Homo sapiens: one gene and its partner. The main gene of each other region encodes a partner of the protein of the gene in region 2 in a complex. Links are inferred from orthologs where the notes say so. Each region holds a gene or a part of one and is shown on either strand. Other genes may lie near its edges. The genes, in order: MAPK1 and DUSP6.

Region 1 (8,312 bases), on a different chromosome or scaffold from region 2:
GAGAATGATGCACACACATTGCTGTATACTTTTTTTTTTCTGAGATGGAGTCTCACCCTGTTGCCCAGGCTGGAGTGCAGTGGTGCCATCTCAGCTCACTGCAACCTCTGCCTCCCACTGATTCTCGTGCCTCAGCCTCCCAAGTAGCTGGGATTACAGGTGTGCGCCACCACACCCAGCTAATTTGTTTGTATTTTCAGTAGAGACAGGGTTTCACCAAGTTGGTCAGACTGGACTTGAACTCCTGACCTCAGGCGATCCGCCTGCCTCAGCCACTCAATGTGTTGGGATTACAGGCGTGAGCCATGGCACCTGACTGCTGTATACTTTTAAAATATCAGTAAAGGCCGGGTGTGGTGGCAAATGCCTGTAGAATCCCAGCACTTTGGGAGGTCAAGGCGGGCGGATCACGAGATCAGAAGTTCGAGACCAGCCTGGCCAATATGGTGAAACCCCGTATCTACTGAAAATACAAAAATTAGCCAGGCATGGTGGTGGGCACCTGTAATCTCAGCTACTCAGGAAGCTTCAGCAGGAGAATTGCTTGAACCCAGGAGGTGAAGGTTGCAGTGAGCTGAGATCATGCCACTGTACTCCTGGGCAACAGAGCAAGACTCTATCTCGAAAAAGTATAAAATAAAAATAAAAATAAATAAAATAAAAATAAAATAAAATAAAATAAAATGTTAGTCAATTTGTTATGCTTCTGATTCTTTGTGTTAACTTGGGTTTTCAAGACGATGCCTAAATTATGCCACGGCCAACAACTCGTGTGTGTGAGTGTGAGTAGGTGAACAGAATGGCCTTAAAGACAAGTCCATAAACTGGGAAGAGACAACAGAGAGAGTAGTCTGGTTCTATTTGTTTTATTCTTAAAGATGAACACTTTCAAGCAAAAATAAGAGCCAATTCTTCCCAGAAATGTTATATGCTTAAAATATTGATTGAGAATGTCTCTCCAAAAACAAAAGCAATCTGCCATAACAGGGCTATGATGATAACCAAAAGAAAAAAAAAACACGAGGAGACATAAAAATATTCACTGCAAATTTTCAAGACAATCATTAAGTGCCAAAGAAGTAGTACAGCCATCCTAAACATAGCTTTATTCGTTTTGTGCCCACCTGACTCTTGGTTGCACTGATCCAGGTAAAGGAGCTGGTTCCATCCCATGTGGAAAAGACATAAACCTGTATCAGAAGGATCCTAAGAGGGGACAGAGTCCAATCCACACAATATCTGATGAAGGAAGCTGTCCTTTACATCTCACTGGACATTGGCCACCGTGTTCACCCACCGTGACAAAACCCACCGCTTTTTACACACAGTTCTAGAAGGTTCCCCACGATCTACTTGCAACCAACCTTTTTAGCTTAGTGTCGATGACTCCCTATTACTCATCCAATGCTGCAGCCACAGGGAGGAAGACTCAGTGCTTTCGGTAGTAGTCCCTTCCTTCTTATTTTATTTCTGTACTCTCTGCCTATGATACCCTATGTCCAATAGAGCCACTGGCCTCCCGCAAGAAAAGCTACCCAACCTCGAGGGCCGGCACAGATACCACCTTCTTCCTGCTGCCTCCCAGTCCCAGCCAGCGCTAGCCCACCTCTCTCCTTTGCATTTGTACACCATCTTTTTCTCCATCTCAGTTACAGAACATCTCATTATAATCACCTACTGTCTACCAGATTTCTGATCTATCAGTTTTCAGATTTCAAGGGCAGACCCTCATCTCTCTTGTCTGGCGTATCTCAAAGGGCTTCTCATAGGAGTGTCTGTTGAACTGAAATCCAATAAATGATTATTGCTATACATATATATGTACTTAAGCAGCTTTATTAACCTATAATTCACACACCATACAATTTGCTCATTTAAAGTGTATAACTCAATGGTTTTAGTATTATAATGGTGGAAATTAACCATTACCACCATCCAATTTGAAAATATTTTTATAACCTCAAAAAGAAATTCCAGTGAGTTAGTATTCCTTCCTTCTTTATTCTCCCAACTCCTCTAGCCCTAGGCAATCAGTAATCCACTAATTCTAATTTTTGTCTCTATGGATTTGCCTATTCTAGACATTTCACGTAAACAGAATCATACAATATGTGTCTTCTGTGGCTGCCTTCCTTCACAGACATGTTTCCAAGATTCATCCATGTTGTAGCATTATCAGTACTTCACTCCTTTCTCTTCTACTGTGTGGATCCACCACACTGTATTTATTCATCATCAGCTGGACATTTGGATTGTTTCTACTTACTGGCTATAGTGAACAATACCACTATGAAGATTTGTGTTCAAGTTTTTGTATAGATGCATGTTTTCATTTTCACTAAGGAGTGGAATCCTCACCAACACTTATTATCTGACTTTTTAACTACAGCCATCCTAGTTAGCATGAAGTTGTTTCAATGTAATTTTGATTTGCATTTTTCTACTGACTAATGATGTCAAGCATCTATCATTCCATGTGCTTATTGCCATCTGTATATCTTCTTTAGAGAAATGTCTATTCAGATCCTTTGTCCATTTTTTAAACTAGGCTATTTATCTTTTCATTATTGAGTTATAAGAGTTCTTCATATATTCTAGTTTTAAGTCCCTTATCAGATGTATGATTTGCAAATACCTTCTCTCATTCTGTGGCTTGCCTTTTCACTTTTTTGATGGTTTGCTTTGTAGCACAAGTTTCTAATCTTGATGGAATCCACTTACTTTTTTCTTTTGTTGCTTGTGCTTTTGGTGTCATGTCTAAGAAGCTTTGCCTAACATAAGATTGCAAAGATTTACTTCTATGTTTTCTAAGAGTATTAAAGTTTTAGCTTTTAATTGAGTTCTTCAATCCATTTTGAATTTTTTTTTCCTTTTGAGACAAGGTCTCACTCTGTCACCCCAGATGGAGTGCAGTGGTGCAATCTCTGCTCACTGCAATTTCCACCTCCCAGGCTCAAGCAGTCCTCCCACTCAGCCTCCTGAGTAGCTGGGACCACAGGCACATGCCACCACGCCCAGATTAATTTTTTTGTATTTTCGGTAGAGATGGGGTTTTGCCATGTTGCCCAGGCTGGTCTTGCTCCGGAGCTCAGGCAATCCACAGGCCTTGGCCTCCCAAAGTGCTGGGATTACAGGCGCGAACCACTGCACCCAGCCATTTTGAGTTAATTTTTTCATCTTTTTGTATGTGGCTATTCAGTTGTCCCAGATTCATTTGCTGAAAAGACTATTCTTTCCCCAGTGAATGGTCCTGGCATCCTTGCCAAAAATCAGTTGACCATAGATACACGGGTTTATTTACTGACTCTCACTTCTATTCCACTGACCTATATGTCTATTCTTATGCCAGTAGCACACTGTCTTGATTACTGTGTTTTGCAGTAAGTTTTGAAATCAGGAAGTGTATCAGTTCTCCATATGAATTTCCATATGAATTTTGGGATCAGCCTGTCAATTTCTACAGAAAAAAACAACTGGGGGCTTTGATAGGGATTGCACTAAATCTGCAAATCAATTTGGAGAATACTGCCATCTTAACAGTATTAAGTCTTATGATCCACAGACATGGGATGCCTTCCCATTTATTTAGGTCTTCTTGAATTCCTGTGCATTTTTTTAGACTGAATCGACATCGCTCCGTCACATCTAAGATATCCATAAATTTCCCTCGTTTACCTGTAACACCCATTAAAACAGAAATATGTAAATGCTGCATATTTTCAGAACTCTGAGGACTGTAAAGAATTTGGGGTTTTCTTATTTAGTTGGAATGCCTTATTAGGTATTAAAGTCAGTGACGTTAAGTTTTCTGCTGCTATCTTTTGAATAAAATTTATTGAAGAAAAATGTCACCAACAAAACATGATTTTAAAACTAACACATAAGGCCAGGCGCGGTGGCTCACGCCTGTAATACCAGCACTTTGGGAGGCCAAGGTGGGCGGATCACAAGGTCAGGAGATTGAGACCATCCTGGCTAACACGGTGAAACCCCATCTCTACAAAAATACAAAAACAAAGAAAAATTAGCCAGGCGTGGTGGCAGGTGCCTGTAGTCCCAGCTACTCGGGAGGCTGAGGCAGGAGAATGGCGGGAACCTGGGAAGCAGAGCTTGCAGTGAGCTGAGATCGCGCCACTGCACTCCAGCCTGGGTGACAGAGCGAGACTCCATCTCAAAAAACAAACAAACGAACAAAAAAACTAACACATAATGTACGTGATCCTGTTTATCTATATAAAGTATAAAAATACACATGTATGCAAGAGCATAGAAAATACTTTGGGAGAAAATACACTTTGTTTTTTAGGACAGAGTTTTGCTTTGTCACCCAGGCTGGCGTGCAGTGGTGTGATCTCGGCTCACTGCAACCTCCGCCTCCCAGGTTCAAGCGGTTCTCCTACCTCAGCTCCCATGTAGCTGGGATTACAGGCGCATGCCACCACGCCCGGCTGATTTTTGTATTTTTAGTAGAGATGGGGTTTCGCCATGTTGGCCAGGCTGGTCTTGAACTCCTGACCTCAGGTGATAAGGCCCACCTTGGCCTCCCAAGGTGCTAGGATTACAGGCGTGAGCCACCGCAACTGGCCACCAATTTGTTATAGTAGTTAGTTATCACGGCCTGGTGCTGTGGCCCACATACATAATCCCAGCACTTTGGGAGGCCAAGAAAGGAGGACTGCTTGAGCCCAGGAGTTCCAGACCGGCCTGGGCAACATACTAAGACTCTGTCTTTAAGAAAAAAAAAAAAAAGGTATCTCTGGGGAGAAAGGAGCAATGGGATAAGGAAGAAGAAGAGGACTACCACACTTTATTAGCATTTTTGCCATAAACATGTTTTTGGGTATTTCTGGTGTAATTTAAAATATGAATAATGACAAATATAACTATGCTTCAGTGAAAGGGTTTTTCAATATATATCACCTTAATAGTAAATAACCTGGCTGACCTTGAGATCACAGGTGGTGTTGAGCAGCAGGTTGGAAGGCTTGAGGTCACGGTGCAGAACGTTAGCTGAATGGATATATTTTAACCCTCTGAGGATCTGGTAGAGAAAATAGCAGATATGGTCATTGCTGAGGTGTTGTGTCTTCAAGAGCTTGTAAAGATCTGTTTCCATGAGGTCCTGTACTATATATCTGTTTGCACAGGTTAAGGTAAAACACCAATTAGCTGGTCACATTTAGCAAAGCATTGAAAACAAAAATGCATCCTCTCTTGACTCTCTTCCCAAACAGTCCATCATTACACCATGAAGCCCTTAAAGGAAAGAAGAAACTGAGGAAAACTTGGTTTCCTTCATGGAAAGAATCTGAAGTCGTTAACTCCTTTTAGGTCCTGTGAGATGGCAGGCATTCCAGCATTACATCTGACTGATGCGGCTATGGGCCTAGACTGAGATCTGAAACAGGCTGTTAGGGAAATTCTGGTCAATCTTGAAGTCTCAACCTCTTTGCTCTCTAAATTGTCCACCATCAACGAACCCCCTCCAAGGTTTGCTGGAAACACTGTTAGCCTGTAAGTAGCAGATACTCCCTCCTCTGTTTGGTCCAGTAACCTGTAATGTCACTATTCTTTTTACTTCTTGTTGCCGCTCCCCTCCTCTCCCAAGCTCCTCAAAAGCCAAACATAAAACTTCCAGAAATACAGGTCTAGAAACATACTCTTACTAGTAAATCCAACCCTAAGTCTATTTTCTTGACTCTTCCATTACTGTTAAGATCTTAAATAAGTAAGACTATGGGCAAGTCGTTCTAAGAAGGGGTTTGTGCTAGTTTTCCTCCTCATGCTTTCTTGCCTGGTCACGTACTTAACTACCTAAAAGTTTAGCTATGGCTACTTTCTTTCTCACAGAAATTAAATTATTAAAGCATTTAGCCTTTAACTTCATCATAGTATTATTTCATTAGCAGTATTTCTACATTTCTTTTACTCACTTCTGTGTAAACACTAGTCTCTGTTTCTTACAGATTTATGCTATAGGAGGCGCAGCATGGGATTCAAAGGAAACATGATTTAAAAATCTGTCATCTGAGAGAGGCTTATTTTCATGGCAAAAAGTAAAGCAGGACCAACAGGTGGTAGTGGCAGGAGGCATTTCACTTCAAATATCACTACAACTTATTAACAGAGCTGTTTAAAAATGGAAAGGGCTGCCTAGAAACAGCGAGCTCCCGCACCCTGGAGGGGCGGAATACAAATTGGGTAAACTGGTAGGAGTGCTGTATAACCCTTTCCCTTCTGGCAGATCCTCTTCAGTATACTTAACCTCTCTATCTTTCAAATGGAGCCTTTACCCAGGCAGCATCCTCTAGATCTGTTCAGTCCAGATTTCTAAATGTTGGTCAGAGTTAATCACATAATTTCAGACCTCAGTTGACCTTAAAGATCATGACGACCAGTTCCTTCATTTTAAAGGTGGGGAAACTGAGACCTAAAGTGGTAACCTGACTCTTAAGATCAGGACAGTCCTGATTTCACCAGGTAGATAGCCAGGGCACCCTCTTTCTTAGTCTACTACTGATCTTCCCTTTACCTTTTCATCATCACAACAAACCATCCCTTGGACAGAAGAAACATGACTGCAAACAGAGTTAACCAAGATTTTCCATGACTAGACTTAGGGAGTAAATAGCAAACAGATTACGATTTTCCCTTTAGCATGTTTAATGCACTTTTCCTTTAAGTTCAGGAAATTTCAAGTTCTATTTACTCAACAAGGTTACCAAGCAGTGGAATTGGCCAGTTGCCTAAAAAGGATACACATCTTTCATTTGCTCGATGGTTGGTGCTCGAATAATGTCATTGATTCCAATGATGTTCTCATGTCTGAAGCGCAGTAAGATTTTTATCTCCCTCAGGGTTCTCTGGCAGTAGGTCTGGTGCTCAAAGGGGCTGATTTTCTTGATAGCTACTCGAACTTTGTTGACATTATCATAAGCAGAGCTTAAAAAAGAGAGAGAGAGATGGCATTAAAAACAGCCCTCAGAATATTTGAAGAAGGCAAGTTGGTAAAGTATTATATTTTTAACACTGTGTAAACACCTGTTTCATACCCGTGAAGGCAGCATGTATATTATCCACAAAAAGGCCTCAAGCTAGGGAGGATGGATGCAACTGACATGAGAGAGCACACAGTGACTCTCAAAACTAACAGAGAACCTAGCCCTGTTAACTGGGTGAAAGTCTTGCCTTTATAAACCCAGAAATACACAAACAAGCATTCTCCCATTGTCTTAAACAGCAACTGCATTCTGGTGAGAGTAATCACTTCTGTCTCTGAAACACCTTCTTACTGTTGTATCAAATTCCTCTGACACAGAAGAAACATTCAAATAACCTACAACTGTACATCTTTATCCCTAACAAAAATGGACCCAAGAGAACACCTTGATTACTTCTATTAACTTTGTTTCTCTCACTTGCAAAACAACATGACCATTTCTTCCCCCAAGAAACTGAATCAAGATGTTTGGGTAGTTTTATAACAAAACCTAGAAAAGTATTCTTCAAAAAACATATTTGTGGCAATAACATGGGGCCCAGTTCTTTCCTAGTTGTCCTTAATGTCTGATAAACCAGAATTATAAGCAAAAGCAATAATAAAAATTATACCTTCAATTTTATGAATTTGAATCTTGAGTATTACTACTATCTTTATGATAAACATTCTATTACAATCTTGTGTATAAGAAATTTTCATATTAATAAATGTCAACATCTGGCCCACTGACCAAAGCAATCAAATAACATTGACAGGCAGTAAGACAACATTTCTTGTTTCCTTGGGGTAAGTGCTAGAATAGAAAGCAGTAAAATAACTTTATTCTAAAATTTATGCTTCTAGGGCCGGGTGCAGTGGCTCACACCTGCAATCCCAGCACTTTGGGAAGCTGGGGCGGCTGGATCACTTGAGGACAGGAGTTTTGAGACCAGCCTGGACAACATGGTGAAACCCCGCCTCTACTAAAAATACAAAAAAATTAGCCAGGCATGGTGGCAAGTGCCTACAATCCCAGCTACTTGGGAGGCTGAGGCACAAGAATCACTTGAACCTGGGAGATGCACGTGGCAGTGAGCCAAGATTGTACCACTGCACTCCAGCCTGGGCGACAGAGTGAGACTCCGTCTCTAAATTAAATAAAGTTTATGCTTCTATAATATTTATCAGTCTACTAATCCTAAGAATTATTGATACATTTGTCTGATTCTATGACAAGATAATGCTCTGGAGGAGAACTTTGTCTTACTAGGATCCAATTATCCTACAACACCATTAACATATAGTACACAGGTGGCCCCAAATGCTTTGAAAT
Region 2 (8,290 bases):
AATTCAGTTTTGAAGTTTTAGCTGCACTGAAAGCCACTGTCACTTTGAGGGCCTACCTGGGACCCCTAAATGCATTTACATTTTAAGTCAGAACTTCCAAAACTCTCCTTATTTGCTGAAAATCTGTTTAACTGTTTTCACATGATGTGTTAATAAATGTCATTGTATTCACAGAGATTATTCCAAGAAGATTAAAGGTCATGCTAGCCCATTTGCATCTTATAAATCTCAAGTGCCCTCAAACTCAGGAAAATTCCTGCAAAAGTGGAATGTTTCTCAAATGGCCTAGAGAAAATTTTATAACCAAAATACACTGCTTTAAAAATTTTTTTTTTTTAACTAACAATTTTTAAGGAACTTTCCAGGGGGAAACACCAGGAGGAATTCAAGCACAAGCACAGGTGCTCGGTGCACACATACATACACACACACACACACACACACACACAGAGGAAGAAACAAGAATCTATGAAAGTGCTTCTCTGCACTCATGAGAATGGATCACAGATGATCTGCTATCTCCAATTTTTAAATACAGACCTCTTCATATGAATGATATCCTCTGAAGGGCACTGAGGCCTCTGGAATTAAGGAAGCCTGTAATTCTTCCAACTACTACAGCCCTTATCTCCTAAGAGAGCTTTTCCTCAGTGCCTCACAGGAATGGCAATATCACCACCAACAGCATTCCTTATGCAGGAATGAAGTGGTGATATTTTAAAAATCATCTTCTGAATACCGACTTTGTGCCCTACACTTCTCGTGTGTCATCTCAGTTGTGTCTAATCCTCACAGTCCTTTGAGGGAGGAATATATATTCCCAATGTTACACACTTCCGAATTCCTTTTCTTGCTTTTTCTCTATAGCGCTTTCACTTTCTAATATATAATTATTTGTTTTGTTAATTGGACTGTCCTCATTAGAATGTAAACTTCAGTGAGGCAGGTTATTGTTGTCTGTTTATTCTCTACTGCTTTCCTGGAATCTAGAATAAATGCATCAATGAATGAATGAAGTGAGGCCCAGACTACTACTGAGTGACAGAGGTTTGAACCTAGGCTTATGTGCTGTGCTGACGCACTAGATAACCAATGACACTTGTGAAGATTAGGATCTAGGGCATATTCTAAGAGAGATAAAATATGCAACATTTAGTGAATGTTTGACTGATGAAGGGTTGCGTGCAAAGAAAACCACTGGTGTGTAAAAGGAGCAGGGAAAGCAGCCTCGCTTTTGATCTTTGACATGGAGGATGCAACAGAAAACGTGAGGCTGGAGAAAGCCTGGAGGTCAAAATTCAAAATGCTGACCTTGAAATTCTTCACATGTGGGCAGGGAATACCACGTGGAGGTGAATATAGTGTCCATAACACTCTATGTAATCCGTGCATGTGGGCATCCTTAAGAGTCTGTAAAGGGTTTGGCCTCACGTCTTGACACTCTGTTGCTACTGTGTGCCCTTGGGCAAATTCTTTAATCTTTGTAAATGGGATAATTTACATGTTTTTTCTGAAGACTGTCCGAAATTATGCAAGTAAACACAGAAACAAGACGGTACCCATCATGCAGTTAAGTGCCCAATATGCATTGTTGTATCAGTTTGCTGTGGCTGGAGAACAGCGTGTTCCAAAGGTGACCAGTAGGGAGAAATCAGAAATGTAGCTGGGTCCATTCTGATAACTGTGCTAAAGGATTTTTGATCCTGGTCTACGATAACACCCCCTTTACTTGACAGCTGAATTGGAACGGATTAAATCGGTTAGGGTAGTATCTCAGAGGGCTTTGCTGCAGATGAGCGAGTCCAGGCGGGCTGTCAAGCGAGCCTCAAGGGGCATCTGTGGGATGCCCAAACCGTGTCCCCAAGCCGAGGCCTTTTTACAGGTCCTCAATTCAGAATGAAAAATTAATTCCAACGGCTAATAGCACCCCACCACCACTTTAGGACGTTTCACCGTACCCATTTTGTCGTCACAGGGACCCTATGAAGCAGATAGTTTTATCTTCGTTATGCCGACGTGGAAGACTGCAACTTAGAACGGCTAAATGATTTAACTAAGGGCGCTTACCTAGGAAGAAGCGGGGGACATAATGCAAACGAGGGCCGTCCCACTCCAGAAGCCCTTTTCGCAGCATTTCTAGTACTGAGCAGTCAGAACGCCACTTTAATCAATGCGCCAGGAAACACTGGCATTCCCTTGGCGATAAAGTTCAGAAGCATGGGTAAAACTACAGTTTCGATGTATCCTCCCGAATCTATAGTCATACTCAAGTAGCTGCGTATTAAAACAGGCAAAGTAGAAACCCAACTTCCCTCCCTTTCTCTTCTGTTGGAGGTCCTGTGCTGAACCTCCAACAGGTTTGCTCTTCTCAGTTCCGCTGAAGGGCATCCTGCCTCTTCCCTCCCTGTCCCCAGGTCCCAATGACTGAAACGTCTCGGGGTGGGAACTTCTGTGACAGATCGTGGAGGACAGGGGGAGTCAACTCCAGCGCAGGCCTCCCCCGGCTGAAACTAGAAGATACCCAGTGAAATATACGAGTTTTGTTCCAAGGACTGCCCAAAAATGGTGCGGAGAGGAGCTCGGCAATCCCCACCTTTGTCGAACACGCTCCTCCAGGGGCGGCCTGCCTGAAGCAGAGCTCCAAAATTGGCAACCTAGGCCTCGCAGCCGCCTTTTTTTAGCCTACATTTCCCAAACCAGGGAAGAGGCGGGTGACTAAAAATGCAAATTGCAGCGGGGGTGTTAGCAGGCATGCCCGTGGGTGCGGGGCGTCGGGCGAAGGGAGACCCCGCGACCTTAGGCGCCCTCGCGGTGTTCACGGTAGGCGCAAAGCGCAGCAAGGGACACTCCCCAAAGCCGCACCCCGCCGGACGGCTGCCCCCGCTTCCGCCTCTCAGGCAGCGGTGGGACAAAGCGCGGCCTCTTTTCCGCCGGGGTTTAGGGAGGGAAGGCCGGATTAGGGCCCGCGCCTTCCGGCTGCATCCCTCTCGCGCCGCGCCGGCCGCACACAGGTGGTTTTCCGCTCGGGAGGGGCAGGCTTCGGCACTTTTATATAACAATAGAGCTCTGCGCGCCGGGAACGCGCCTCCCCGCCGCCGCGGCCCCCACCCGGCCACGCCTCCATCCGGCTTCCAATCCGTCCGCCCCGCGGCGCCTGGGCCGAGTGCTGCTCGCTGGCCTGGCCCGCACCTCCCCAAAGTTACCTGCTGGCTTTGCAGCGCGGTAGAGACGTTCCCCTCGACTCCTTGGGAGCGAGGAGCCAGGGGGGTCCCGGCAGGCACTCGTCCTTGCTCCCCCCACCCTCCCCAGATCTCTATGGACCCGGGAGTCCCTCGCTGAGCCCCGCACCCGTCCACTGCGTCGCGCACAGCCCCGTGCCCAAGCGGGGAGACGGGGACGGCGGGGCGGTGGCAGGGAGCGCAGCGCGCAGGCGCGGCTGGTGCTCCCCGGAGTGCCCGGCGCTGGACAAAGGGAGGAGGCGGCGGCAGGAGAGGGCTGGGGAGGCCCCCTCTGACATGCCTCCCTGCCAACTGTAACCAATCGTCGAGCCCCCCTGCCGAGCCCCCGCAGCCTGCAGGTCTTGCGGGAGGACTTCCTCACGCCTCGCCCATGGCGGGGACTGCTGGCCCGGCCCGGCGCGTCCCAGCACACCTCGCTCAGGCAGCCCCGCCAGACCGGCTCCCCCGTCAGAAGCCGAGCTCCTTGCCCAGAAATCATTAACCAGCGCGACCTCCCAGCAGGCGATGGTGGTGGTGGGGCGGGGGGAGAGATATAGATTCCCCCGAACAATGGCTTGTAACTCCCCACGCCGCCGGAGCGGAATACAGTAAAAGCACTGGACTGACCTAAGAGTTTGTTTCTGCACTCTACATTGTTTTAATGAAAATAAAATGTTATTTTAAGAAAAAAGGTTTTCTTCTGATTTTCTGCACAACCAGACGTTTGTTTGTTTGCTTTAAAATGTTTCAACAAAATCCTGGTTTGTTTCGAAATATGTTGGATTAGCATTTAACACCTCATCGGTCACTAAAGCCCAGTCAGTTCACCAGCCCCAACACAGCCTCGGCTAAAAGAACATCAGAGCAAACAGAGCTGGGCCTTTAAAAGTGGCAAACAAATGCCACACACCGCCTAAAGAAGGGGGGTTGGGGGAGGGGAGGGTTAAGGCGAACTTGGGTCCAAATGAGTTTGAAGGGAATACAAAGAACGAAAAGTCAGCACAAGTTTTCCTAAAGCTAGCTCGCGAACGCAAGCGTCGCGAACAAGGGCTTTTGTGCATGCTAATTGCGCCATTGGTGCGCAAAAGTTCCGACGCGAAGTGTGAACTCTCAACAGAAGGAAACATGAGACAACTGAAGTGCCCTGGTTTATGTGCCCTGCTCCTCCTCCGCTGCCGCCTCCCCTTCTTTCTCCTTCCTCCCGCCGAGCCCGCTGTTGCAGCTTGTTTGCACTGGGGCTTATCCGGAGCGGAAATTCCTTTCCGTTTTTGTGAATGACAAACTCATTAACAATTCATCAACACAACCTGTTCCAGCCGGCCCGTCCCCACGGCAACAGCCCCTTCCGCAGCACGCTCATTGGCTGGCCCGGAGAATGTATCCATTGAGACGCTCGCTGTTTGTATCCATTGAGGAGCTGCCTCGCGCAGGGGGTGTGCGAGGCTGAGTCCAAGAGATAGCAAATCGAGTCTTAAATAATCCGGGGAGAAAGACGCCCGGGTAGATTTGAGGTGCAGCCTTGGAGGGAGGGATTAGAAGCCGCTAGACTTTTTTTCCTCCCCTCTCAGTAGCACGGAGTCCGAATTAATTGGATTTCATTCACTGGGGAGGAACAAAAACTATCTGGGCAGCTTCATTGAGAGAGATTCATTGACACTAAGAGCCAGCGGCTGCAGCTGGGTGCAGAGAGAACCTCCGGCTTTACTTCTGTCTCGTCTGCCCCAACCGCTAGCCTCGGCTTGGGTAAGGCGAGGCGGAATTAAACCCCGCTCCGAGAGCGGCAGCTTCGCGCGCGGTGCGCTCGGCCTATGCCTGCCCCGAGGGGCGTCTGGTAGGCACCCCGCCCTCTCCCGCAGCTCGACCCCCATGATAGATACGCTCAGACCCGTGCCCTTCGCGTCGGAAATGGCGATCAGCAAGACGGTGGCGTGGCTCAACGAGCAGCTGGAGCTGGGCAACGAGCGGCTGCTGCTGATGGACTGCCGGCCGCAGGAGCTATACGAGTCGTCGCACATCGAGTCGGCCATCAACGTGGCCATCCCGGGCATCATGCTGCGGCGCCTGCAGAAGGGTAACCTGCCGGTGCGCGCGCTCTTCACGCGCGGCGAGGACCGGGACCGCTTCACCCGGCGCTGTGGCACCGACACAGTGGTGCTCTACGACGAGAGCAGCAGCGACTGGAACGAGAATACGGGCGGCGAGTCGGTGCTCGGGCTGCTGCTCAAGAAGCTCAAGGACGAGGGCTGCCGGGCGTTCTACCTGGAAGGTACGCGCCCAGGGAACTCCGCGCGCGGGGCAGGGCTAGGGGCGCAGGGCTGCGGGCGGGGCGCGTGGATTGAAAATACCTCTGCTCCGCTCAGCTGGAGCTTCGGAGCCGCGCTGCCCGCCTAGGGACCGGCAGCCGGCGAGGTAGGGGCCGCGAACCGCGCGTTCCGCACCAGAGAACCGGGCCGGCTCAGAATCCACTCGCTTCCGGCTGCGGGTACCGGCGGTTTCTTTCTAACGGGTTCTGCGCCTTCTTAGCCAGAACATCCTCCACCATCACCCTGTTTTCTATCGTTCGATTTTGAATTAAGATTTGCAGGACGGGAGAGATTGTTGGGGATGCAAATTGGCACATCTTAGCTCTCAAAATATTCCAAAAAGTTGCCATTTTGTCTATTTCCGGATTCAAGCGAATAAGGGTTCCCTGGCGAGGCGGGCCCGTTCGTTCCATTCCCGATGGTGCACATTTAAAGTGTGTTTCTCTTATAGATGGTTCTGTATGTAGGGGGTTCGTAGGATGCTTGTGGTGTTTCTTGCGCCGGGCTGCGGTTCTTACAAGCTGTGAAAACTACTACGGCTTCTCAGGTTAGATGATTGCTTTTCTCGTTCTGGCAGGTGGCTTCAGTAAGTTCCAAGCCGAGTTCTCCCTGCATTGCGAGACCAATCTAGACGGCTCGTGTAGCAGCAGCTCGCCGCCGTTGCCAGTGCTGGGGCTCGGGGGCCTGCGGATCAGCTCTGACTCTTCCTCGGACATCGAGTCTGACCTTGACCGAGACCCCAATAGTGCAACAGACTCGGATGGTAGTCCGCTGTCCAACAGCCAGCCTTCCTTCCCAGTGGAGATCTTGCCCTTCCTCTACTTGGGCTGTGCCAAAGACTCCACCAACTTGGACGTGTTGGAGGAATTCGGCATCAAGTACATCTTGAACGTCACCCCCAATTTGCCGAATCTCTTTGAGAACGCAGGAGAGTTTAAATACAAGCAAATCCCCATCTCGGATCACTGGAGCCAAAACCTGTCCCAGTTTTTCCCTGAGGCCATTTCTTTCATAGGTGAGACTAATTAATAGTCGTCGCTCTGACATTTAAATGCAAAATTCCTAGCCATTCATAGAGTTTAAGCTGTTAATCGTTCTTGCTGCTTGCTAATTTGTCTGACTGCAGGTCTCTAATGTTCCTAGAGCGTCCTTAATTCTGGTTTATCTTCTTGCTAAAGGAAGAAAACCTGCCTTTTGACATGGCTGCAGATCACAGGTGTATTTGAAACGCTGTTTCTTGAATCTTTGAATTCAGTCATTGACAGTCGTTCATAATCGGACAACAGATTTTTCCCCCCAGTCTTTGGACTCAGGGGAAGGGTCAGATAGAAGTACTCACTATAGACAGGAATTCCAGCATTGCTTTATAATTTAAAAACATCTAGGAGTTATTTTAGGACATCAAGTTAGTTGTTGGAAAGCAGTATGAATGCTGAATGTTATCCAGTTGAATGATGCGGTGATACTGGTAACAGTGAGACAGTGGGTAACCTGAGCCCAGCAGGAAGAACTGTGGGCTGGAAGCCTGGGAGAAGTGAATCTCCAGGCATTGTAATGCATTTCCTATTACAAAGGAACTCATTTTCAGGCCGTGTCGACATCCTGTTCCTCCTAATGGGCCGTCCCCTGTGACTTCCCTCTCTCTTTTAAAATGCCTGAATACCTCCATTGTTAGCTGCACAACATTTGGAGCATAATTTAATAGACCCTTGCAGTCTGGTTGTCTGTGTAAAAGGCATTCACGAACATATTGCAGGGTTTCTGGTATTCACATGCCGAGGCAAAGAATGCACCCATTAAGGAGTTTTTTGTTGGCAGAAACTTAATACAAAAGCTCTCTTTTCAGAAAATATCTGAAATATGTAATTGTGTCCAGTGTACATGTTTCATTTCAGTGATACATTTTCTGCTGCTTGTAGGGCTCAACTGCCACACACAACTATTATTATTATTATGTTTTCAAGTTCAGTTTTTAGACTGATCATTCACAAAGGGTGGTTTTCAGTCTGCTGAGATCTTGCTTTTCTTTTTGTGTTCACAGATGAAGCCCGGGGCAAGAACTGTGGTGTCTTGGTACATTGCTTGGCTGGCATTAGCCGCTCAGTCACTGTGACTGTGGCTTACCTTATGCAGAAGCTCAATCTGTCGATGAACGATGCCTATGACATTGTCAAAATGAAAAAATCCAACATATCCCCTAACTTCAACTTCATGGGTCAGCTGCTGGACTTCGAGAGGACGCTGGGACTCAGCAGCCCATGTGACAACAGGGTTCCAGCACAGCAGCTGTATTTTACCACCCCTTCCAACCAGAATGTATACCAGGTGGACTCTCTGCAATCTACGTGAAAGACCCCACACCCCTCCTTGCTGGAATGTGTCTGGCCCTTCAGCAGTTTCTCTTGGCAGCATCAGCTGGGCTGCTTTCTTTGTGTGTGGCCCCAGGTGTCAAAATGACACCAGCTGTCTGTACTAGACAAGGTTACCAAGTGCGGAATTGGTTAATACTAACAGAGAGATTTGCTCCATTCTCTTTGGAATAACAGGACATGCTGTATAGATACAGGCAGTAGGTTTGCTCTGTACCCATGTGTACAGCCTACCCATGCAGGGACTGGGATTCGAGGACTTCCAGGCGCATAGGGTAGAACCAAATGATAGGGTAGGAGCATGTGTTCTTTAGGGCCTTGTAAGGCTGTTTCCTTTTGCATCTGGAACTGACTATATAATTGTCTTCAATGAAGACTAATTCAATTTTGCATATAGAGG

Evidence for each region.
Region 1: the proteins of DUSP6 (region 2) and MAPK1 are in contact, whole or in part, in a crystal structure (PDB 2FYS), measured with the Rattus norvegicus proteins. The link is inferred for Homo sapiens from one-to-one orthologs. Residues at the interface, in NP_446335.1 of Rattus norvegicus: Arg64, Arg65, Leu66, Gln67, Lys68, Gly69, Asn70, Leu71, Pro72, Val73, Arg74; in NP_446294.1 of Rattus norvegicus: Glu79, Glu107, Thr108, Leu113, Gln117, Leu119, Asp122, His123, Tyr126, Phe127, Gln130, Thr157, Thr158, Cys159, Asp160, Tyr314, Asp316, Asp319.

What each region holds. Positions count from the first base shown.
Region 1 is NC_000022.11:21,800,905-21,809,216, forward strand, and holds part of MAPK1 (mitogen-activated protein kinase 1), read right to left. Parts: intron 6,943-8,312; coding exon 6,760-6,942; intron 5,136-6,759; coding exon 4,946-5,135; intron 1-4,945. UniProt on the Homo sapiens protein: Serine/threonine kinase which acts as an essential component of the MAP kinase signal transduction pathway. MAPK1/ERK2 and MAPK3/ERK1 are the 2 MAPKs which play an important role in the MAPK/ERK cascade.
Region 2 is NC_000012.12:89,348,834-89,357,123, reverse strand, and holds the start of DUSP6 (dual specificity protein phosphatase 6), read left to right. Parts: upstream 1-4,622; 5' UTR 4,623-5,084; coding exon 5,085-5,484; intron 5,485-6,098; coding exon 6,099-6,536; intron 6,537-7,562; coding exon 7,563-7,870; 3' UTR 7,871-8,290. Other genes in the region: POC1B-DUSP6 readthrough, read left to right, coding at 7,563-7,634. UniProt on the Homo sapiens protein: Dual specificity protein phosphatase, which mediates dephosphorylation and inactivation of MAP kinases. Has a specificity for the ERK family. Plays an important role in alleviating chronic postoperative pain.